Regions from separate parts of the Homo sapiens genome. Here region 1 is linked to region 2. Evidence: fine-mapped expression QTL. A gene starts in region 2. The other region holds a variant in brackets. All regions are shown on one strand. Distances are between the middles of the regions.

The links.
Region 1: its variant is fine-mapped to the expression of OR56B2 in blood mononuclear cells (TOPMed, PIP 0.99).

The regions. Positions count from the first base shown.
Region 1 is chr11:5,792,182-5,797,582 of GRCh38, forward strand. No RefSeq gene overlaps it. Among named protein-coding and RNA genes, the nearest start is that of OR52N1, 3.6 kb to the left of the region's middle. The variant T/C (reference allele first, on the strand shown) is at 2,788.
Region 2 is chr11:5,758,788-5,764,188 of GRCh38, forward strand. It overlaps OR56B2 (olfactory receptor family 56 subfamily B member 2), which reads left to right and starts at 2,366. Exons shown (of 2, transcript NM_001396057.1): 1 at 2,366-2,452. The coding sequence starts at 2,452.

The sequences.
Region 1 (5,401 bases), 33 kb after region 2:
GTGTACATATTCCATATTTTTAAACCCATTCATTCATTGATGGACACATTTTGACTATTGCAAATAATACTGCAATGAACACGAGGTTGCAGACATCTCATTAACATATTGATTTCAATTTCTTTGAGCATATACCCAGTGAGACTGCTGGATCATATGGTAATTCCGTGTTTGATTTTTTGAGGAACCTCTATACTGTTTTCTAAAAGAACTATACTAATTTAAATTCCCAACAAGAGTGTATAATGGTTCACTTTTCTCAACATTTTCATCAACAGCTCTTATCTTTCATCCTTTTGATAATAGCCAATGTAACAGGTGTGAGGTAATGTCTTATTATGGTTTTAATTTGCAGTTCTCTAAAGATTAGTGATGTTGAGCATTTCCTCACATACTTTTTGGCCACTTGTATGTCTTCTTTTGAGACATTTTTATTCAAGTCCTTTCTCTACTTTTTATAGGGTTTTTTTTTTGGCAATTGAGTAGTTTGAATTCCTTGTTTATTTTGGATATTAGTCCTTATCCAGCATATGATTTGCAAATTTTTTTTCAATCTGAGAAGTTATCTCTCTATTGGTATTTTTGGCTATACAGAAGCATTTTAATATAATCCAATCTCAATTGTTTATTTTTGCTTTTGTTGCCTGGTGCTTTTGGGGTCACAGTCATTAAATCTTTGCCCAAACCAATGTCATGGAGCTTTTCTCCTATGTTTTCTTTTATTAATTTAATGTTTCAAGTTTTATATTTGAATCTTTAATTTATTTTGAGTTGATTCTTGTATAAGAGACAAGCTAAGGGTTCATTTATATTTTCTGTATGTGGATATCAATTTTTCCCAATACCATTTATTGAAGACAGGTCCTTTTCTTTTTAAATGTGTGGTTTGCTTCTGGGATCTCTAGCCCATTCCATTGGTCAATGTATCTGTTTTTATGCCAGTACCATGCTGTTCTGATTACTATAGCTTTGCAATATATTTTGAAATTCTGTAGTGTGGTGTCTCCAGCTTTATTCTTTTTGGTCAATATTGCTTTGACTAATTAAGGTCTTTTATAGTTCCATAGAAATTTTAAGATTTTTTTCCATTTCTGTGAAGAATGACATTGGAATTTTTATAGAGATTGCATTGAATCTGCAGATTGCTTTGGGCTTTATAGACATTTTAAGAATATTAATTCTTCCAGTCCATGAACACGAGATATCATTCCATTTATTTATGTCATCTTCAATTTCTCTTTTTTAACTTTTATTTTAGATTTGGTGGTACTTATATTTCTAATTTTATACTGTTACTATATTTTATTGATTGTCATAGCATTATAATACATTTTTAAATTAGTGTAAGCACTGTCAATTAGGTCCTTCTTTAAAAAGATTCTTTGGATATCCTTTGTCCTTTGCATTTCCATAGATAATTTAGAATTAATTGTGTAATTTCTACAAAAAGCTGTCTTGGATTTTTGTGAAGACAATATTGAACCTATAGATCAATTTGAGATTCCACAAACTGCACTCATAGGATGGCAAACTTAATTTATAAATGTTGTATGTATTCTCATTGCTACACTGGCCAGCCACTCTCCTGTCTCTCTCCCTCTTCTTGGGCCCCCCTATTCCTTCAGGCACAACAATATTGAAATTAGGCCAATAAATGACCCTGCAATGGTCACTAAGTGTATAGTGAAAGGAAGAGTCACATACCTCTCAATTTAAATTAAAAAATATATATATAAATGATTAAACTTAGTAAGAAAGGCATGACAAAAGCTGAGATAGACCAAAAGCCAGTCCTCTTATGCCAAACAGTTATCCAAGTTGTGAATGCAAAAGAAAAGTTATTGAAGGAAATTAAAGGGATACTGCAATGAACACATAAATGACAAGAAAGCAAAACAGCCTAATGGCTGATATAAAGAAAGTTTAAGTGGTCTAGACCAAACCAGCCACGATATTCCCTTAAGCCAAAACCTAATCTAGAGCAAGGCATCAACTATTTTAATTCTTTTAAGCCTGATAAATGTAAGGATGTTGCAGAAGAAAAGTTTAAGTTAGCAGAAGTTGGTTCATGAGGGAAAGAAGCCATCTCCATAACACGCAAGTGCAAGTGTTGATGTAGAACCTGCAGCAAGTTATCCAGAAGATCCCACGATCATTGATAAAAATGGATTCACTAAACAACAGATTTTCAATGTAGATGAAACAGCCTTCTCTCTCTCTCTCTCTCTCTCTCTCTCTCTCTCTCTATATATATATATATATATATATATATATTTATTTATTTATTTATTTATTTATTTTGAGACAGAGTTTCACCATTGTCACCCAGGCTGGAGGGCAGTGGCCCGATCTTGGCTCACTGCAACCTCTGCCTCCCCGGTTCAAGTGATTCTCCTGCCTCAGCCTCCCAAGTAGCTAGGATTACAGGCTCCCTTGCCACGTCTGGCTAACTTTTTGTGTTTTTAATAGAGACAGGGTTTCACCATGTTGGCTAGACTGGTCTCAAACTCCTGACCGCAAGTGATCCACTCACCTTGGCCTCCCAAAATGCTGGGATTACAGGCATGAGCCACCGTGTCTGGCTGAAACAGCCTTCTTTTGGAAGAGCATGTCATCATAGAGAGGATAAGTCAATGTCTGTCTTCAAAACTTCAAAGAACAGGCTGACTATCTTGTTAGGGGCTAATGCAGCTGGTGACTTTAAGTTGAAACCAATGCTCATTTACCAATCCCCAAATCCTAGGGCCCTTAATAATTATTCTAACTCTATGTTGTCTTTGCTCTCTA[T/C]ATAGAACATCAAAGCCTGGATGACAGTACATACGTTTAGAGCATGGTTTATTGAATATTTTAAGCCCACTGTTGAAACCTACTGCTCAAGAAAAATGGATTCCTTTCAAAATATTCCTGCTCATTGACAATGTGCCTGGCAACTCAAGAGCTGTAATGGAAATGTACAGGGAGATTAATTTATTTTCAAGGCTGCTCATACAACATCCATTCTGCAGCACATGGAACAAGAAGCAATTGTGACTTTCAAGTCTTATTTATTTAAGAAATACATTTTGTAAGACTATAGCTGCCATAGATGGTAATTGTTCTGATGTGCATGTGTAAAGTCAATTGAAAACCTTCTAGAAAGGATTCACCATATTAGATACCATTAACAACATTTATAATTCATGGGATGAGGTCAAAATATCAACATTAATAGGGGTTAGAAATAAGTTAGTTCTAACCCTTATAAATGGCTTCGATGGAGTCAAGACTTTACTGGAGGAAATCACTAAAGATGTGATGTAAATAGCAAAAGAAATAGAATTGAAAACGAAACCTGATAATGTGACTGAATTGCTGCAATCTCATGATAAAACATGAATAATGTGGAGTTGATTTTTGTGGATGAGCAAAGAAAATGGTTCCTTGAGATGGAATCTACTCTTGGTGAAGATGTTGTGAACATCGTTGAAATGACAACAAAGGATTTTGAATATTACCTGGATTTAGTTGAGAAAGCAGTAGTATGGTTTGAGAGGATTAACTCTGAAAGCTGCTTCACTGTGGGTAAAATGCTATCAAATAGCATTACATACCACAGGCAAATCTTTCATGAAAGTAAAAGTCAATCAATGGGGCAACATTTATTGTCCTATTTTAAGAAATTGCCACAATCACTCCAAACTTCAGCAACCACCACCCTAAGTAGTCAACAGCAGTCAAAGACTCTCCACCAGCAAAAAGATTATGGCTCACGGAAGGCTCAGATAATCGCTAGCGTTTTTTAGCAATAGCATATTTTTAAAAAGGTCTATATATTTTTTAGGCATAATGCTATTGTATACTTAATAGACCATGGTATAGTGTAAACATACATTTTATGTGCACTGAGAAACCCAAAATTCATGTGACTCACGTTATTGCAGTGGTCTGAAACCAAATCTGTGCTATGTCTAAGGTATGCCTGTATTATAACCAGATAAATAGACTTCATTTTAATTTCTCACACCTATTCATAAGTATATTATTATATATGCATAGCATTTATAAGCAGATATACCTGCTTAATACAGTTTTAATTCAGAAAACAAACAAAAAGCAAAAAAAAAAACCGAAGTAAGGATATTTTTCAAAGATTTTCTGACTTGAGGAACTTTGTAGCAGAGTCTAGGACTTGAAGCATTACCTAGCATCTGATAGCTTACTATTTATTTAAGTATTATTTTAAAAATGCTATTAATATTGTAACTCAGCAAGTTTTAAAAGGAAAGCTGACATCTATGTTTTTCATTTATTAGCTATCTGCTCTGGAATAAAGCTACACACCACCATATTGTTAATAATTGAAGACTCACTCTGGGCTGAAGCTCTATGGCATAGAGCTTATTTTATGTGTTTCGGTAAGCGAGCTGGCTCACTGAAAAAGAAAAAAGGACCTACATTTGTGGGGATTCTGTCCATCGTAGCTGCTTGTGCTAGAAGAAAGATGTGCCATTACATCATATTACTGTTTACCGTTTTCTCCTCTCCATAGACTGCATTCATTCTACAAACCCAAGGTATTAAATTGTGGTCACGATGTTCTTTGATTCCTTTCCAGACATCTGTCTACTTTGAGGATAATTTCAATCCCAGCCTTTGATGTTTCCTTAAACTTGATCAAGATGTACTAACGGGGATTGCAACAGAAAAGAATGCTATATTTCTACTGAAGTAAAGGGGAACAGTGATGGAGAGACAGTGCATTTAACAGTGTTAACCTTTCAAATAAAGACATAACTCAGCCTTATTGCAGAATATATATTTTAATGAGCCCCTAGCATAAAACATTCTGAAATTGTTTACTCAATATTTTTGAGAAAGCTTTAAAATACCCACATGGCACATGAATAAATATATAAAATGTTATGAAACTGGAATGGAACTGCCCTAGGGAGTCAGGTAAAATTCCAGGTTTATGATTCAATAGATGCTAGACACTTCACATGTCCCATCAATAATAAAATTTGAGATTTTTTTCTGTCAGGCATAGACATATTCTAATTATAGATCTATTTTCAACAAAGGTAAATTCACCTCCTTTTCAGAGACCTATGGGACATCTATCTGTAAAGCCCCAAAGAATTTTTTTACCTTGGCTTGGAAAATCCCCAGAGAAGATATTAAGTTTGTTACATAGGGTTCCTCATCAATATTGTGCAATTATTTCTAAGTAATATCAGTCATGAATGGGAATTTAAAAACATCTGGCACCAGGGTGAGTTTGGATGAAAATGGTTCAGATAAAAAGAAAACAAATATATAAAATGCACAAAATTGCTACTATATAGGAGGGATTTAAATGAGAGAGCAGTTGAATAAGGAAGTTCTGAATTACTTCACTCTTTAGAATTTTGAAACCAAGGAA
Region 2 (5,401 bases):
CAACATGATTTGTAGAATAAAACTTAAAACTGGAAATATCTAAATGTCCATCACCATCAGATGGGTTAAATGAATTTTGGTACATTCCCACAGTACATTCCCACAGTACATTCTGTATGACAGTAAGAATATAAAATCTGCAACTTCAGGGACAGACTTTAACTCACTTCTCTTAACAATAAAAAAAAACAATTATACAGAAAGTTAGCAATGATATATAAGAACTTATAACACAATCAATCAACCTAATCTGAAAAACACTTCTAGAACATGCTACTCAACAAGAGGAGAATACATTTTTTTTTTCAAGTGCTCACAGAACATAGCCCTAAATTGTACTGAACAATGAAAGAAACCCAAACTTTTAAAAATAATTTCAAGCATACAGAGTGTATTTTCCACATAAAATGAAGTAAAACTGGAAATAAATAAATATATTATTCATTTTATATATATAATATGTATATATAATGGTAGTATATATATAATATATATATATAATGGTAGTATATATATAATATATATATATAATGGTAGCATATATATGTAATGAAAATCTCCAAACAGTAGAAAACTAAACAGCACATTTCTAAATAATCTTTGGGTCAAAAAGGAAGTGTCAGGGATATTTTAAAAAATATATTGCCGGTCACAGTGGCCCATGCCTATAATCCCAGCACTTTGGGAGGCCGAGGCAGGTGGATCACCTGAGGTCAGAAGTTTGAGACCAGCCTAACTGACATGGTGAAACCCGCTACTAAAAATTAAAAAAAAAAAAAAATTAGCCGGGCATAGTGGCCCATGCCTGTAATCCCAGCTACTTGTGAGGCTGAGGCAGGAGAATCCCTTGAACCCGGGAGGCAGAGTTTGCAGTGATCCGAGATCATGCCACTGCACGTCAGCCGGGGCATCAGAGTAAGACTGTGTCTCAAAAAAAAATTATATTGAAGAAAAATGACAATTCAACATATCAAAATGTGTGGGACACTGCGAAAGTATTACCAAGAGGGAAATTCATACAATTAAATAATTATATTAGGAGAATTAAAAGTCTCAGATCAATAAGCTCAGCTACCACTTCAAGAGTATAGAAAAAATCAGACTATAAATCCAAAGCAAGTAGAAAAAAGAAAACAACAAAAATAAGAGTGAAATCAATAAAACTGAAAACAGAAAAATAATAGAAAAAATCAATAAGGCATGGAGCTGCTTCCCTGAAAAAAATCAACAAAATTTATAATTTCTCACAATACAGTCATCTGTCTGATTCATTTAGAGATATGAAAAAGCCTCGGAATTGTGTAGATAGGATCAATGGGAGCGTGAGAATTCCAAGTTCAGCTATAACATGTACTGTGTGATATCAGGCAAGTTTCTTAAAATTTATGTGCATCAGTTCCTTTATCTATAAGATGTAAAGATACTGGTGCCTAACACAATGGAGGTTATTATGAATGATAATTTTTAAAATATGTAAGACACAAGGAATGATTTCTGTCATATAAGAAGTACTATGTAAGTGTTTGCTATTTTTGTTATGAAATAGATAAAGTAGTTCTGAATCTAGCTTGCATTAAGGGAAAGTTTTCTGTTAATTGTGTGACATGGTTGGGGAAGGCGTGCTGTGTACACTATGCATATGCATTGATAAGCTTAGACTATGGAATATTATAAAATCATATGGATTTCTTATTTGCATATGTTTGTGTGAGGTTAGAAGAGGGGATAGGTAGGATGGAGTTGACAAATTGAATTCTTCTGCAAACTATTTCTAGGGTTACCCAGAGAGAATCAGGCTATTCTACAACCTATCAGAGAGCTAAGCACCTCATCTTCCCTTCCTTTTGTGTAATGAAGCTCAGACTACCTAAACTGAATACAAGAGGATGCAAGAATTTTAAGCCTCTATCCTATGGTTGTTCATCAATTACTTAATATTATTTGACCTCTAGATCTCACTACCTGAATTATTTTTGGAGTGCTTTCCTCAATATTGTACAAGTCCTAGAGATACAAATTGACAGAAAATCCCTCTGAAATTTCTGTATGTATAAAACTTAAAAATGTAGGAAGAGGTTTTGTATTGTGCTTTTCCTTAAAAAAAAAAAAAACAACTTTCCCAAAGCCTTCCTCAAAGAGAAAATTATCATAAAATTTAGATATTTAACACTTTTATGCCTATATTTAATAAAAGCTAGCTCTACCATACCCAAATTAAGATTTTTAGCAAAATGATGTGACTTGTTCCTAATTACATCCACGCCCTAGATTTGACTTGCTTCAGGCTAATTGGGTTTTACAACCCTAGGGAATAGACTTTTCCTCCACTTAAGCAGGTCCCTGAGTTTCTCTGCACTGGTCATAATATCCTAGTCCATCTTCAGTGGCTGTAAACCAGCTCTGGGTATACTGAAGATCACTACATATGACAAGTCTTTCACAGGACACCACAGTAAGTACATAGCTGGGGCCAGAGTCAGTCTTTTTAATCTTCGCGGAGATTTGGGAATGCCATATAGAAGGGTAAGCCTCAGCTATGATGGAGGCATCTACATAATGCTTCTTTAATGACTGTGTAGAAACCATGAAATACACTTCATGTCAAATTAATCTGAATATTGGAAAACTTTATGGAACCTAATACAACAAAATGTTAGATATTTCATAACCACTATGTCTTAATATGTAAAAATAAAAGTATATTACCACCAGCATTTTTAGAATGATATTTCTTGTTTATTTATTGTTTTGGCATATTTTATTTTATTAGATACTTTGGAGCTTTGTAATTCTTCACAAAATTTTTTCAAGCTCAATATTTAGCTTTTGTATTAGACACTGTAACTCTCCAGCTCCGTTGAGTTTTTATGCATATTCCTGCACATGTCTTTCTTAGCTTGCTGACACATAATACCTGGTACCAGTTTCATGGTATTAGGCATCAAAGGCCCTCATTTAAATTTACCACATAAATATTAATTATCCCATCTTGCAAGAATTTTAATTAGGCATTTTAATAGAATTGTTAACACACTCCAGAATCTAGAAATGAATTATTATATTTCATAGAATAGAATCAAGAATCCTAGAGGCTAAGACTTTTGTTGAAGTTCATAGGGCCACACAGAATTTCATTTTCACCCAAAGTATTAGAATTTTTGCTGAACTGTGAGAATAATATATTTACATGTGTGTCTTTCAATTGGAAATACTAGAATTGGAAAGACAGAGTCTCACATACACCTGCCAAGAAGTAATATTAATGTTTAGCAATCATCAATATATAAATATAATCCATTGTAAGAATAAATTGTACAGTTTTCTTCCAAGCAGTTTTTCATTATAAAAGATTTATCTTAAATTTTCCTGGTATTTCAAGCTAGATCATTGTATTTTCTAAGATAGATGCCACATGTATTTTTTTTCTTTACTAATCTATTGAACAGTGGACCCTTACTTCATTGAAGAAAAATAATTGATTTACTATACTCTCTAGCAATTTAAACAATTTTTCTCTGGAGGCCATGTCCAATACTATTTTATATTTGATTCATTTATCGTTTAATGCCCTTGCTAAATTTTTCTAAATATATGAATGTCATTTGTTTTTTATGGCTTTCGATAATTTTGCATGTTGTTTTATGAAATTTATGATATTCTTTGTTACTTCTCACTCATTACCCAAAGCATCACTGATATTCATGCATCTTCTTTATGTATTTATGATCGGTAATCTCTTATTTTTTGCAAGAGATTTACATTTAACTCCTTTGGTACAAATATACAGTTATATAGAATGAATAAAACCTAGTATCTGATAGATCAGTAGACTGACTAAAGTTAACAATAATCTATTGTACATTTCAAAATAGCTGGAAGAGAATAATTTAAATGTTCCTAGCATCAAAGTATCACATGTACACTGAACATCTGTACATTTATGTATTAATAAAAAAAGACAAAAACAAATAATTCAAGAAAAAATCTATATCACTGCCAGTTTTTGTTTACGTATTTATTTAAAGAAATATATTTAAATATACTTTACCATAACCATACTTTGTCATTTTCTACTAGAATTTCAAGTTTAGGTTATGTGTTTGGGATCAGGCTAGTCACAAATACTATATTATCCTGTTAATGTTTATTATAATGTTATTATCATTTCACAATTATTATTTTAACTGAATTACTAATTTTATATATGACATTGTTACATTGGTTTTCTTATCTAAGAATACCCGATTTATTCTGCTTTCAAATTTTGTATTAAAGTTTCTTTCAAAAATAGTACAGTTTTAAAAAATGTAACCTGAGTCTCTTTTTTAATTAGCAATTATAATCTATAAGAATCAGTATGTTTACAGATGCATATGAATTACCTCTTTCATGTTTTATAATATGTATAATTTTATTTTTAGTTTTCATCTTGTCTTGATGAGATATCCGCTATACTCTTCTACCCCTTGATTGTTTCAACATGATTCTCCTTTCAATCCCTGTCTCCTTCCATTACATTATATTTATTTATTAATTTATTTTTGAGACGGAGTTTCACTCTTGTTGCCCAGGCTGGAGTGCAGTGGTACCATCTCAGCTCACCGCAACCTCCGCCTCCTGGGTTTAAGCAATTCTCCTACCTCAGCCTCCTGAGTAACTGGGGCTACAGGCACACGCCACCATGCCCGGCTAATTTTTGTATTTTCAGTAGGGACGGAGTTTCACCATGTTGGCCAGGATGGTCTCAATCTCTTGACCTCCTGATCCGCCTGCCTGGCCTCCCAAAGTGCTGGGATTACAGGCGTGAGCCACTGCACCTGGCCTCCACTATATTTTTAACGTGCTTATATGTCAATAGCCCTAACCTCCTCATAAACAATACAAGACTCATGGACATAAAACTGCTTATTTCTGCTTCAGTATTCATTCACATAATATAAATTGAGTGCTTATTAAGTGTCTGTCTCTTGGGGAAAAACAGTGACATAAATAACAAATATCCCACGCCTTTAGGTTTCTATGGGAGATACGTATATCAACTCAATGACCTACACACTGATATATATTTTTCCTTCTTTGGGCAGTTAGACACAATACAGTATTCCCCAAGCCACATTTTAATTAAGCATTAAAATTTGTAGAAACAATTTCATCAATTAACCTTATTTTGTTACAAGTAGTATAAGATGTTATTACCTAAAGTGAATATATCGACCAAGTCAACATAACATTGCCTCCTCTGTAGACTCTATAATTTTAGCGCACAAATTTTAAAAATAATTTTTTGCCTTTATATTGTATCCTTAATATTTTAAATACTTAAAAGGAAAGAAGAAATAAATAGTGCAGAGTAGCACAAGTAAAACATTTCATGAAAATTTGTTCTGAATATTTTAATTCA